4 linked regions of the Homo sapiens genome follow. The protein of the gene in region 4 purifies or fractionates together with the protein of the main gene of each other region. This does not show direct contact. Each region holds a gene or a part of one and is shown on either strand. Other genes may lie near its edges.

Region 1 (3,042 bases), on a different chromosome or scaffold from region 4:
GAAAACAGTGGCTTCACATTTTATGTTTTCTTGGATTAAACTAATCAGACTCCTGAAGCTTAGTTACATGTGCTTTTAAAAATAATGCTTGCGTAATTGATAATTTAGTGTTAATCATTTAAATGTTAACTTAGGTTGTTGGTGCTATCGAATAATACTCAGTTCGAGTAAGTAAAAAGTCAGATCCTGAGCAATCAGAGGTGCAATTTTGTTCATTATGACTGTATTCTACTTCAGTTTCGGTTCAGGAAAACCCATTCTATAGTTCCCATTGACTACCTTTGGGTACTCATACACTGTATTAAACATCAGATAATTCTAACATTCATTCAGAACTGGAATGCCCGCTCTATGCTGGATTCTGTTAGTTGCTGAGGATACAATAGTGACCAAAAATGCAATTTCCTTATGCATCCTTTACCTCTTCTGTTCTGCAACCAACATTTGTATGAGCCCAAAATTCCCTTGTAAGATATAAAAAAAAAGACTTAAGTTCAATGTTTCATTTCACTCCGTTTTTATCCTGTTTTCAGTTTATGTAATAAGAACGGGCAAACAGCTGAAGATCTCGCTTGGTCATGTGGATTTCCAGACTGTGCCAAGTTTCTTACAACAATTAAATGTATGCAGACAATAAAAGCAAGTGAACACCCTGACAGGAATGATTGTGTTGCCGTGCTCAGACAGAAACGGAGTCTCGGAAGTGTAGAAAATACCAGTGGGAAAAGGAAGTGCTGGTAAGTAACTCAGAGCTGCTGCTTTTTTCCTCCCGCAGTGATCTCTTGTTTGCATAGCATTTATTATTCCATTTAATACTGACACTCGTATTTCTAGTAGTATTGTTTCATTCTCATTAACATTTTAGTACTGGTTATACTTACCAGAGTCTAGAGACCAAAAATGGGACTGCATGGTGGAAGTTTGGGGATAAAACTCTTTTTAAAAAAAAGTTTTTAATGTTAACGTGTTTTTAAAAACAGATGTCACGTGGGTTATGAAGAAGTCTGAAGAACGCCTTCATTTCATGCAAATCTATAAGCTCCTGCTTTTGGCTTTACCATATGTTGTGTCTAATCTCCTTCTGAGAAGGACGAAAAACTTTCTTCCAAGTGAAGATCCATTTAAGAACACATGTATTTACATGCCTATAATATGCTGGTTGTGTATGCTTTGTCTTTTAAGTTATTAAAGGAACGTCTAAAAAATACATTCTCCGTGCAGTATTTACAACCTTTGAAAAAGGTCATAATTTAAATCGTCAAACTAGAACCAGGATTTAATGTGAAAAATTAAACTGATTCTTTATTCACAAATTTATAATACCACTCTACTGCAGTCTTTGACTCCAAGATATTTTAAATCATATTTGGTCGCTGAGGAAGACATAAGTTATAGTATGCATCCTTGTTCCAAAAATCTGGGCCCTTCCATCCGCACCAGCCCTGGATAGAGAAGACGGGAAAGGAAAGCCTTTTACAAAGTTACAAGATTATGTCATGGAAATCGTGACATCAGGCTCTGTCAGCAGGACCTTGGAATAAGACTCTAAATGGCTTTATCATTCAAGGATTTGAATTCCTACTAGCATAGAAAAGTAACGTATCTTACCCTTTAAGGTAGGTTTTTGAACTTTTAATTCTATGTATGTAATTCATCATAAAAATCATTAAAAAAAATTTACCTGTAACTGTTATTCCAGATACCACACTTTACTGATTCTGAGATGTATAGTTTTACCACTTGCAACTGATAGCATGTGACAATTGAACTAGCAATCTGTTTTTCTTAATAGTCCATAAAGGACTGTAAGAGACCATTCAGTGGCATCTTAGGATTGAAGTACTGTAGTGAGAAACCTCAGCTTGCCCCCTGCCTGGCACTCTGTGCCCTTTCATTTTCAAATTCCAGGTGTTACTCAATTCTACTTCCCATGTTTCATGTCAGTATTAATCCTTTTTGCCAGCAGAGAAAATTACTTTCAAGCAAAATCTCATTTAGAGTATGAAAATTTCTCAGATTTCTCCTAGGGCCACTGAGTTATTTTATTAAAGAAGAAAACTTAAAAGCCAATAACTGGTCTGTATTATATGATTCTTAAATGCTTTGAGAAATCCTTGCAAGGAGGCTGAGACTCTGAAAATACCATGAAGTGAGTGACAAGCAGCGGTCTGACTCCCTCCTAATAAGATACACGTTGTCAAAAAACAAGATAAAAGTAAAAAATCCTCTACCAGTCCTAGGTAATCCCCCACTCTCCCTAGGTAACCAGCATTCTATTAATCATCTCATTTTTTCAGCAAAACTTTCTCTATTAATTTAATGTCCTAAAATCTGTTCTCTTAACAGACAGAGAAAAAAGGCTCATTCTGTTTTAACCTTTTTTTGATCCTTTTACACATGAAGGCCTTGTCCAGGTAACCAGATCCAGATTTTTTAAAGGAGAAATTGGTAGAGAGGGTGTCAGAATGGGATTGCATAGGGACATAGTGCATAGGACATGCTTCTTTCCTGTGAGATGACCAGCATGGGAACTTCAAACAGGAAAGCACCACAAGAAGGCAAAGAGGTCAGGCAGAGATGGAACTCTCCTCTGGCCTCCTGGGTTCCTGGAGTCAAGTGAATCAATAGTTTTAATGGCAGGACCTTGGCTGCACAGTTTCTTGTGTATACAAATAGAGCAAGGAGGTTTCTGCTGTTGAAAAGTTCTATAGAAATAGAACTAGCAAAGATGGAGATTGCAATTCTCAGAGAAAGAAATCAGGGACAATCCCTTACTCTAATTGTTCAGAAACCTTACCTAGATAATGCCATGTAGTGCAGAGCCCCTTGAGTCAACCAGAAAAGAGAAATTTGATGATGAAAATAATTAAGGCTTCTCCCTGCCTTTAAGAAAAAATCGAAATGCCTGGTTCACAAAGACCACCCTTTCTGACTGAGCTTGGTGTGTCCTTCCAGCCTCACCTCTTCGCCTAGCTCTGGACGCACTGATCTACCTGCAGTGCGGCTTTCACTGTTTCTACAAGGCAGGGGCCACCACAGCAC
Region 2 (3,614 bases), on a different chromosome or scaffold from region 4:
GCACCTGTAGTCCCAGCTACTCAGGGAGGCCAGGGTGGTAGAATTGCTTGAACCCGAAGGCAGAGGTTGCAGTGAGCCAAGATCACGCCACTGCACTCTAGCCTGGTGACAGAGTGAGACCCTGTCTCAAACAAAAAAAGAAAAAGATATCCTGTCACATGCTATAACATGGATGAATCTTGAAGACATCATACTAAGTGAAATAAGCCAGACACAAAAAGACAAATACTATATGATTCCACTTATAAGAGGTACCTAGAGTAGGTGAATTCACAAAGACAGAAAGTAGAATGGTGATTGCCAGGGGATGGGAAGTTGTTACTTAATGGGTACAGAATATCAGTTTGGGATGATGTAACAGGTGTGGAGATAGACAGTGGTGATAGTTTGTACCACAATGTGAATGTACTTAATGCCACTGAACCATACATTCAAATGGTTAAAGCATTAAATTTTATATTATGTCTTTTACCAGAATTCTAAAAAATTCTATATTCAGAAAGGCCTCTGAGGCCGGGCGTCGTGGCTCACACCTGTAATCCCAGCACTTTGGGAGGCTGAGGCAGGTGGGTCACCTGAGGCCAAGATTTCAAGACTAGCCTGGGCAACATGATGAAACCCTGTCTCTACAAAAAATATAAAAATTAGCTAGGTGTGGTGGCGTGTGCCTGTAGTCCTAGCTACTCGGAGACTGAGCTGGGAGGATCACTTGACCCTGAGGGGCAGAGGTTGCAGTGAACCAAGAGTGCGCCACTATGTTCCAGCCTGCGTGACAGAGTGGGATCCTGTCTCAAAAAAGAAAAAAAAAGAAAGAAAGAAAAGAAAAAAGAAAAAGAAAGAAAAGAAAAAAAGAGAAAGGCCCCTGAGAAACAAGGGAAAAGAATTAATGACCAAAAAACTGACAGTTTTCTTGCTAAACTTTCACAAACTTTGACAGTCTATGTAATCTTGCCAGATAATTGAAGTAAAAAGCTTGGATATCAAGTTGACTCAGGAGAAGAAAAAAAAAAAAAAAAGGAAAAAAAAAAAACCCCTGGCTTTACCATTGGCTGTTGTGCTGTATTTTTGATTCTTCATCTGTTAAGTAGGAAGGAAAAGGTCTCAGGAAGCTGTCAAAATGAATAAACTACACTATGCAATCTGGGTCCCTCAGAAGTGTCAAGCAAATGCAATTACTGGTTAGCATCCCAAATCTAAAAATCAAAAATCTGAAATACTCCAAAATCCGAAACTTTTTGAGCACCAACATTATGCTCAAATGAAATGTGAAATGGAGCAGTGAGGATTTTGGATTTTGATATTTCGGATGCTCAACTAGGGTAAGTACAAGGCAGATATTTCAAAACTGGAAAAAATCCAAAATCCAAAACACTTCTGGTCCCAAGCACTTGAGATAAGAGATACTGCACCTGTACTGCTATTTCCTATTCCTCCTTCCTCTCCCCATCTTACCTTTGAGAGATAAGCATCCATGTTCTCATGTGTAATGGATGGATCTGTGACAAATTCAAAGAGCTCCCGCACAGTCATGACAGCAACACTGTGCCTCATAAAGAAATCTGTCAGAAGGAAAAACGTTAATGACAGCTTTTATGAGGAAAAATATTATTATTCCAACTACCTTATAGAGAAACAAGGAGATAAAATTACATACCATCTCCCAGCAAATGGTTTAAGCATCACTGCACCAAACAATTTAGTGAGAAAATTTTACGCCAACAGCTTAACTGAGTACAAAACCAAAACAGACCAATGAGCTGTTTCGAAAATTGCCGTTTCTACTCACCATTGACGTTGGCGCAATCCTTTCTCAAGAACTCCAAGGCATGTGGGTGGTCGTGCTCCACGGACTGAGACACGTCAATGATATACACGCCTCCACCGTGGTACCTATGGGCCAGAGACACAGAAGCTGTGGGATGGTATTACTTTACTATGTTTTTCGTTTAAAATAAATTCTACTCTTAAAAGCAAGGGAAGTAGCTCACAAAATCACCAAGGTAGATAAGATGAGGCAATCTTGACTAACAGATGGAACTGGGAAAATTTCCAAAATCCATTCACTGTTAATGATCCAAGCAGTCAATTCGGTGACTAAGGTCACTGAAAAAAGGAATCCTATCTTATACCATTTGGAAGTCAACAATAAAACTTCAGAAGTTAGTGTGACTTCTTGGATTGGGATTTTGTTTATCATTTTAAAGGACACGAAACAACTGACAGGCAGTTCTTAAGAGACAAAATACACTCACAGCATGTTAAATTCACTGAGATCTGCATGGACAAGTCTGGCATCCTGATACATTCTTCTCATGTACTGAATGACCTGCAGGTACAACTCCCGAGCCTTGGATTCTGATAACTGGACATTTTTCAAGAGTGGTGCAGGCCTTGAATGAAAAGAACTAAGATAAAATGACCAAGAACAAGTTTTCTTGCTTCTTACTATACTGTTACATGCCCTTCTCTTCTACAACTCATCATGTGAGCTGTATGTGGGACAATCTGTCTCAATGCACATAAACCAAGAAGGTACCGGCAAATAGATGCTTTCCCAACACACTGTATAAGACCACCCTCCAACACAGGACTAACTTGCTCCTCATTCTGAAGCATTTTCAGACTTGAAAAGGTAGAATACATTGATAACACTTATTCACTAATATAGTGGGAAAGATTAATAAGTTATTCAAATGGGAAATATTCATATAGTGGATAAACTCAAAGAACTTAAAAATACAGTTCTGAGAATGCAATTATTAGCCCTTCCATGTACTTACATGTCATCTTTACCGATGAAACTCATGACAAGAACATGACTTCTTAGCATTATTGGTTCTGGACATGGTATCTCTGCTGTGTTTAGCCTGTGATATTATAACAAATAAAAGGACAACTGAAAAGTTGAAAAGGCATCTAAATAAATTACAACTGCAGGTCCCAAGATTAATATTGCTGTTAAGAAATAGCACCAAGGCCTCTCAAATGTATTATAATATTTCATAAACTCTAAGATTATTTTAAGTGGCACCATTATGTACCACCGAGAATGATAAAACACTAGCAATTCAACTATTACATCCCATAACCTGTAATACCCAAAGCAATTCCAGAGATGTTAAACTGAAAAAAATGTGCATCTTACAATGGAGGAAATAGAGGAGATAGGTCCACAAGTATCTTTTGTGTTGAATAGCCTGAAAAATGCTTAATAAAAATAGTTGGACTCACACCTAATAGCTTGTTGAACACAAAAGACTTTCAAAACGAGTAGTACTTGCTCAATACTACACTATCCAATGTGTCACCTGTGTACACCATATAAAAAGTTATAAGACATTTTTTAAAACTCCATAATTTTCAGGAAACTTGATCTCAACTAGATGAGGCCTTTACCTGATAAAAAGGTGTTAGTGCAAACAAAGAATATAAAAAAAGTGTCCAAAACTGGACTAAGAAAAGGAAACTATGATAAACAAAGAGTTCACGACCTAACAAGATTAGTCGAAAACTCCAATACCTACGAAAACATGACAGAGCATTATAACCATCTGATTGTGTCACTTTCCTGATTAAAATCCTTTAGCAGTTCCTTATTATCCTCAGTATAAATT
Region 3 (3,614 bases), on a different chromosome or scaffold from region 4:
TTTTTAGTAGAGAAGGAGTTTCACCATTTGGCCAAGGCTAATCTTGAACTTCTGACCTCAGGTGATCTGCCTGCCTCAGCCTCCCAAAGTGTTGTGATTACAGGCATGAGCCACTGCACCCAGCCTGGAAAGGCCTTTTCTAAAAAGGAACAAGGGCACTGGCCTTGGACTGACTTTTCCCAGATGTAATCTAAATGAAACTACGAATCACTTCTGAATTTTGACTCTCCAAAACTGAAGGAGAAGCAAGAGATTAATATATTAAATAGATTCTTTGCTACACTAACATAGAAAGTATTAAATTAGGACATCTTATGGACTCATGTTAATGTAAAAACATAAGTGCACTAACTAAATATAACAAACATAAAACTTTAGACTCCATGCCACACAGTCTATTAGTAGATGTTGCTTGTGTGAAGCATAAAATTACCACCTGTTTAGTTCTTTTAGGCAACAGATGCAATCAAATAATAATCTAAGCACATAGTTAATATTTTCAATTATCACATAAATCATCTCAATAATGTCTCCATCACTATAAACACTGCATGTTTTTTCTTATCCTGCACTATTTAAGTTCCCAATAGAAGTACCATGACAGTAGACTTAATTTTTTCATACCAAGATACCCAGCAACACTTTTCAAAAGATCAAATTCCTTCATGTTCCTGCACAAATTTAAATTAATTTTTATATTGTTAATACACTTCAAAAATATATTTCCATAACATTTTTGTTGAGCACAGTAGAAAGTACCATTTTAAAATACATTTTTCCTAAAAAGAAAAAAAAAAAACCAATAAAACAAAGTCACGAATAAAAGCCCTGGATTTATAAATGTGCCCTTTGAGCACATCTACGCAGCATTCTCACTTCTGCTGCTCACTCAACTAGCATTCTCCCCTCTGCTGAGGCTTTGAAGAATTTAACACAGTAATTGCTTTAAAACAATGGCTTTCATCAGATGTGTCCAAACCGACTGGCAACACTGGTAATGTTTTGAGGATGATGGTGGCCCCCATCCCTAGTGGAGCTTTCTAAAGGAATATGCACAGGCAGCTGGAAAACGTTCCTCATCTGACCTCCCCCGAAAAGATCCTGGCCTCTCTCCTTTCCTGCTACTCCCTCTACAACACAGCTTTAGATAATCTATACCTTGAGAAACAAAAGGAAAGAAGATGTGGAAAGCAGAAATACTTCAGGGGAGCTGATGCAGTCTGGACTTTCACACAGGGCTGTCCTTAACTTCTGCCCCTTCCTGCAACTTCACTTCCTTCACCTTCCATGGGGTCTTATAGTAAGGGGCTTAGCGCTCTAGAAAGGCACTGGGAGTCTTGTCGGGGAGCATCAGGAGATGAGAACAGAAGAGAAAGGAGGTAAACTATGCTAAAACTTGCCTCCTAGCTGCCCTGAAAAGAATGAAGGACACTGTTTCTAAGACATGGGGCCCCTGCTCACAAGTCAGAACCTTGGTATCACCTCACAGTTCAGCTATTTTGCCACAGCCATAACGCCATCACCAAGAACAGCTCTGCTGCTGTAACAAACACTTTCAGAAACTAAAGTGAACCATTTTTAAGTTGGGATTTGTCAGAGTTAGCATTTCATTCACTGATTTCTGGGAAGCGACGAGTAAGTAATAAGATGAATAAAGATAATGACCCCGGACTGACATTTAAATTAAACTTTCCTTCATGATTAAAGTCCTAATTTAAAAACAAAATGAAATTTCTATTCCATTTAGACAAAAAAATACTCCTCAGTGAAGGAAGGTCCTATAAACAAATTAATCTAAATGAGATTGTTTAATAGTTAATTCTAGATTAATTTATTCTCATATTACTCTAGACCGGTTTAAATTGTATTTCAGAATCTGCAGTCTTCATGAAGAAAAAATTTAATTCAGTCTCAGATAGGATAGATTCATCAGTCATTTCTATTTTGATTCCTTGACATATTAAATGGATCTTGGGTGTTTTCTGTTACTGGGAAGCTTTGGACAAATTTCAATTAAGATATCTGCAGACTTACAATCTCCTAGAGATGTTTATCTTAAATATTATTGAGACAGAATTTTATTAATGAAAAAAATTGTTTACTAAAAGTAAACTGAGATAAAGTAAAAAAACAAAAGGAAATCCCAATAGGATTTTAGCTTTCTGAGGTTCAACTATTTGTGCTTCAGGTCATATGTGAAACGATAACAAGGTAAATATTCTAATAATGACACTATTTGTCAAGAACCTGTCAGTTTTCATGGGTGAGTGTTTATGCATCTTTGTCATTTATCCTAATATTCTTATTTTTCCTTGAGAGAGATATTATAATCCAACCAAGTAACAGATGAAGGAAACTGTTCCCTTTCATGTTGCTGAGCCAGGGTTCAACCAATAAAAGCACAGTGCATGATAAATTTGGGCATTACACTTTCAAAAAACAGCAGATCTTTTAATATCTAATTCAGTGTGCCTACTGTCTAGTAAATGTTAATATTCTATTGTGTGGCCTGGTGTGTCTACAGCTTATACCAAAAAATTAACAAGCTATCCCCCAAATTACTTTCCAGTTCCAAATGTGGATTCAAAGTATAGTTAAACACACAGCAATAGTTTTTAAAGACATACCTACGTCCTCGTACTAGTAGTCTGGAGGCTTTTCCTAGTAATTCAACTGCCTGTCGTAAGCGTTCTTCATTCTGAAGGAATCAAAGAAAAACAAGTGTTGGCTGCTTTAATGTTGAAATGTTTTTATCCCCTAATATTTATTTTGTAAAGAAGTAATGGCACTGGATCAAGGGGGGAACACGAAAGCTGCTAGTTCATTTCACTACTCTCTAACAGAAAAGAAATAGCGTGCAACTGTGAGCAGGGAAAAGTTTTAAAAGTAGCCACTGCACTTCTCTATTTTCCTATATATTATTAATCTAAACATTCTAAGTAATTAAAGAAAAAAATAAGATTCAAACTTACTTCAAACACATTAGCTGTCTGTTGATATAACTGTACAGCCTTCTCTGGATCAACATTTTCTATAAGCCTGAATCAGACAAGAAAACATGTCTTATATGAGAAATGGAAAACTTGTTTTTCAGGGACCTCTTTAAAACAAAAAGACAAGACTTCTATGCAGAGACTTGTCCATCTCACACTCACTTTCCAGCTCGCTCCAAAGCCATGGCTGCTGTGTCTGGGGTGCCGTTTTCTAGATACATCATGCTGGCCTTCTCAATTAGCTGAACGGCCTCTGGTAGTTTCTGCATCTCCTTTGGGCAAAGGATACAGTAGACAGGTCAGCAAATGCATCAATTAAAGAAAAACAGAGTTAACAATCTGAAATGCAATTATTTTTTATTTTAAGTTCTGGGACACATGTGCAGAATGTGCAGGTTTGTTACATAGGTATACATGTCCCATGGTGGTTTGCTATACCTATCAACCCATCATCTAGGTTTTAAGCCCCGCATGCATTAGGTATTTGTCCTAGTGCTCTCCCTCCCCTTATTCCCCAGCCCCCGACAGGCCCAGGAGTGTGATGTTCCCCTCCCTGTGTCCATGTGTCCTTGTGGTTCAATTCCCACGTATGAGTGAGAACATGCGGTGTTTGGTTTTCTG
Region 4 (3,614 bases):
GACATTTATTAGTAAGGAAGAGAGGCAAGCACCAGGATTCAAGGCAGAAAGGGATAGGCTAACTCTACTATTTTGTACAAATGCAGTCCGGTTTATGATTAGGACTGCCCTTATCTATAAAGCTGCTAGCCCCCAAGCCTTAAAGGAAAAAGATAAACACCAGCTACCAGTCTTTTGTCTGTACTTGTCAAGGCCTAGACAACAAGAACCCTTTTCCTGGATTGGTTCCATCAATGCTTTGTCCCTGAAGTCAGGAAGTATTCTGTTAATAAGGGACTGCCTTTTAAAATTCTTTTGTTATTGGACAATGCTCCTGGCCACCCAGAACCCCACAAGTTCAACACTGAAGGTGTCAAAGTGTTGTACTTGCCCCCAAACACAACATCTCTAGTTCAGCCTCTGGATCAGGGGTCATAAGGACCTTTAAGGCTCATTACACACAGTACTCTATGGAAAGCATTGTTGATGCCATAGAAGAGAACCCTGGGCAGTGTGGTGGCTTACGCCTATAATCCCAGTACTTCAGGAGGCTGAGGCGGGCAGATTACCTGAGCTCAGGATTTTGCGACCAGCCTGGGCAACATGGTGAAACCCTGTCTTTACTAAAATACAAAATATTAGCTGGGCATGGCAGCGTGCACCTGTAGTCCAGCTACTTGGGAGGCTGAGGCAGGAGAATTGCTTGAACCCAGGAGATGGAGGTTGCAGTGAGCCAAGATCACGCCACTGCACTCCAGCCTGGGTGACAGCGAGACTCCGTCTCAAAAAAAAGAAGAAGAAGAAGAAGAAGAGAACCCTGATAAAGAAAACATCATGAAAGTCTGGAAGGATTACACCACTGAAGATGCCATTGTTATAGAAAAAGCTGTGAAAGACATCAACACGAAACAAATTTCTGCTGGAGAAAACTGTGCCCAAGTGTTGTGCACATCTTCACAGGATTTACGACAGAGCCAATCAATGAAATCATGAAAGATATGGTAGATATGAAAGGAAAGGGGGGGTGGAGGGTGGAGCGTTTCAAAATTTGGATCTCGGAGAAATTCAAGAGCTAACAGACACAACACCAGAGATATTAACAGAAAATGGCTTGATAGAGATGAGTGCCTCCAAACCACTGCCAGATAATGAAGAAGATGTAAAAGCAGCAGTGCCAGAAAAGAAACTGACATTAGACAATCTGGCAGAAGGGCTCCGATTTTTCAAGACTACTTGACTTCTTTTACAACATGGACCCTTCTATACAGGCAATGAAACTAAAGCAAATGGTGGGAAAAGAACTGTTACCACCTAAAACAATTTTTAGAGAAATAAAAAAGTAAAACAGTCAGACAGAAATTACTACGTATTTCCATGAAGTCACAGCAAGTACGCCTTTCTCTCTTGCCTCCCCTTCCACCTCCTGCCATGCCTAACACAGCAAGACCAACCCCTCCTCTTCCTCCTCAGCCTACTCAATGTGAAGACAATGAGGAAGAAGACTTATGATGATGATCCACTTCCCACTTAATGAATAGTAAATATATTTTCTCTTCCTTATAATTTTCTTAACCCTTTTTCCTTTCCTTTCCCCTTTCCTTTCTTTTATCTTTTCTTTGTCACCCAGGCTGGAGTGCAATGTTGCGATCTCGGCTCACTGCAACCTCCGCCTCCCAGGTTCAAGTGATTCTCCTGCCTCAGACTCCCGAGTAGCTGGGACTACAGGTGCCCAACACCACATCCGGCTAATTTTTGTATTTTTAGTAGAGATGGGGTTTCACTATATTGGCCAGGCTGGTCTCAAACTCCTGACCTTGTGATCTGCCCACCTCAGCCTCCCAAAGTGCTGGGATTACAGGCATGAGCCACCACGCCTAGCCAACATTTTCTTTTCTATAGCTTACTTTATTGTAAGAATAGAGCATATAATACATATAACATAAGAAATATGTGTTAATTGACTTTATGCTCTAGGTAAGGCTTCCAGTCAACACTAGGCTATTAGCAATTTAGTTTGGGGGGAATAAAAAGTTATAGGCAGATTTTCAACTGTGCAGGGTAGTTGGGGGGTCACACCCCTAAACTTCACATTGTTCAAGGTTCAACTGTAAATATGTTTCTCAGTGGACCAATTCTCCTGGGGTTGTTTCTGGCGAGAATAATTGATAATATCCAAGCTATGACTACCAAAGAATCAAATCTGCTCCAGAGCTGAAAAACAGGTTAATAATTCCTGAATAACATTTATCATCATCCCACACAACTATACAGAATGAATATATAGGGCCCTTTGTTTGAACATTGACTTGATTGAATCAAAAAAAAGAAGTAGCTAGAGTCTATGCCAGAATTCCACCACCTAGACTATCCCAGTAATAGCAAAACTGGGACAAGATCTTGTGTCTTCAAGACTTCTTGTATATAGTGCTAAAACTCAAAATGATTCATTTTTCCTCCAAAAATATAAGTATCTCTTCCTTCCCTATTAAGACCTACTACCTTTTCTTATTAAAACAATTTATTTTCAGATTATAAAAGTCATATTTATTTGTTGTAGAACACTTAGAAAATGGAGGTCGGCCGGGTGCAGTGGCTCACGCCTGTAATCCCAGCACTTTGGGAGGCCGAGGAGGGTGGATCACGAGGTCAAGAGATCGAGACCATCCTGGCTAACACGGTGAAACCCTGTCTCTAAAAAAAAATACAAAAAATCAGCCGGGCGTGGTGGCAGGTGCCTGTAGTCCCAGCTACTCAGGAGGCTGAGGCAGAAGAATGGCGTGAACCTGGGAGGCGGAGCTTGCAGTGAGCTGAGATCGCACCACTGCACTCCAGCATGGGCAACAGAGCAAGACTCCGTCTCAAAAAAAAAAAGAAAGAAAGAAAGAAAGAAAATGGAGGTCAATATAAGAAAAATGTAATTCACCCATTTTCCACCACCTAGAAATAATTATCCAAATATCAGGGTACCTTTCCAGTCTTTTCCTGAGCATACACTTATTTTTACAACATTGTTGTCCCTTACATATTTTCTCTATCCTATTTTTCCACATGTATTATATCATATTAATATAATTATAATATTAAGCCTATTTACTTAATCTGCTTAAATTCCTAAAGGTGGAATTAACTAGGCCAAAAATATAATCATTTAGGAAGCTCTTCATTCACATTGCAAAACTTCACACTAGAAAATTTGCCTATAAATATGCAGTAGCAATGTATGTGATTGTCCATTAACTTGTAGCTCCGCCGGGTGTGGTGGCTCACGCCTGTAATCCCAGCACTTTGGGAGGCCAAGGTGGGCAGATAACAAGGTCAGGAGTTCGAGACCAGCCTGACCAACATGGTGAAACCCTGTCTCTACCAAAAATACAAAAATTAGCCAGGTGTGGTAGCATGCACCTGTAGTCCCAGCTACTTGGGAAGCTGAGGCAGGAGAATTGCTTGAATCCGGGAGGCTGAGGTTGCAGCGAGGCGAGATCATGCCACTGCACTCCAGCCTGGACGACAGAGCGAGACTCCGACGCAAAGAAAAAAAAAATATTGTTATAGGCCGGACACGGTGGCTCATGCCTGTAATCCCAGCACTTTCGGAGGCTGAGGCGGGTGGATCACGAGGTCAGGAGATCGAGATC

Evidence for each region. The genes of interacting proteins can lie anywhere in the genome.
Region 1: the proteins of FAM177A1 (region 4) and UFSP2 purify together in Homo sapiens (affinity purification with mass spectrometry; 3 studies listed by BioGRID and IntAct, with this or other methods). This does not show direct contact.
Region 2: the proteins of FAM177A1 (region 4) and RIOK1 purify together in Homo sapiens (affinity purification with mass spectrometry; 2 studies listed by BioGRID and IntAct, with this or other methods). This does not show direct contact.
Region 3: the proteins of FAM177A1 (region 4) and NAPG purify together in Homo sapiens (affinity purification with mass spectrometry; 2 studies listed by BioGRID and IntAct, with this or other methods). This does not show direct contact.

What each region holds. Positions count from the first base shown.
Region 1 is NC_000004.12:185,399,037-185,402,078, forward strand, and holds the end of UFSP2 (ufm1-specific protease 2), read right to left. Parts: intron 1,688-3,042; exon of another isoform or gene 1,443-1,687; coding exon 1,356-1,442; 3' UTR 982-1,355; coding exon of another isoform or gene 981-981; 3' UTR 742-980; coding exon of another isoform or gene 534-741; 3' UTR 501-533; downstream 1-500. Other genes in the region: ANKRD37 (ankyrin repeat domain-containing protein 37), read left to right, coding at 534-741. UniProt on the Homo sapiens protein: Thiol-dependent isopeptidase that specifically cleaves UFM1, a ubiquitin-like modifier protein, from conjugated proteins, such as CD274/PD-L1, CYB5R3, DDRGK1, MRE11, RPL26/uL24, TRIP4 and RPL26/uL24.
Region 2 is NC_000006.12:7,403,194-7,406,807, reverse strand, and holds part of RIOK1 (serine/threonine-protein kinase RIO1), read right to left. Parts: intron 2,868-3,614; coding exon 2,781-2,867; intron 2,391-2,780; coding exon 2,253-2,390; intron 1,891-2,252; coding exon 1,787-1,890; intron 1,560-1,786; coding exon 1,453-1,559; intron 1-1,452. UniProt on the Homo sapiens protein: Involved in the final steps of cytoplasmic maturation of the 40S ribosomal subunit. Involved in processing of 18S-E pre-rRNA to the mature 18S rRNA. Required for the recycling of NOB1 and PNO1 from the late 40S precursor.
Region 3 is NC_000018.10:10,539,413-10,543,026, reverse strand, and holds part of NAPG (gamma-soluble NSF attachment protein), read right to left. Parts: intron 3,266-3,614; coding exon 3,156-3,265; intron 3,040-3,155; coding exon 2,973-3,039; intron 2,699-2,972; coding exon 2,628-2,698; intron 1-2,627. UniProt on the Homo sapiens protein: Required for vesicular transport between the endoplasmic reticulum and the Golgi apparatus.
Region 4 is NC_000014.9:35,070,240-35,073,853, reverse strand, and holds part of FAM177A1 (protein FAM177A1 isoform 1 precursor), read right to left. Parts: intron 1-3,614.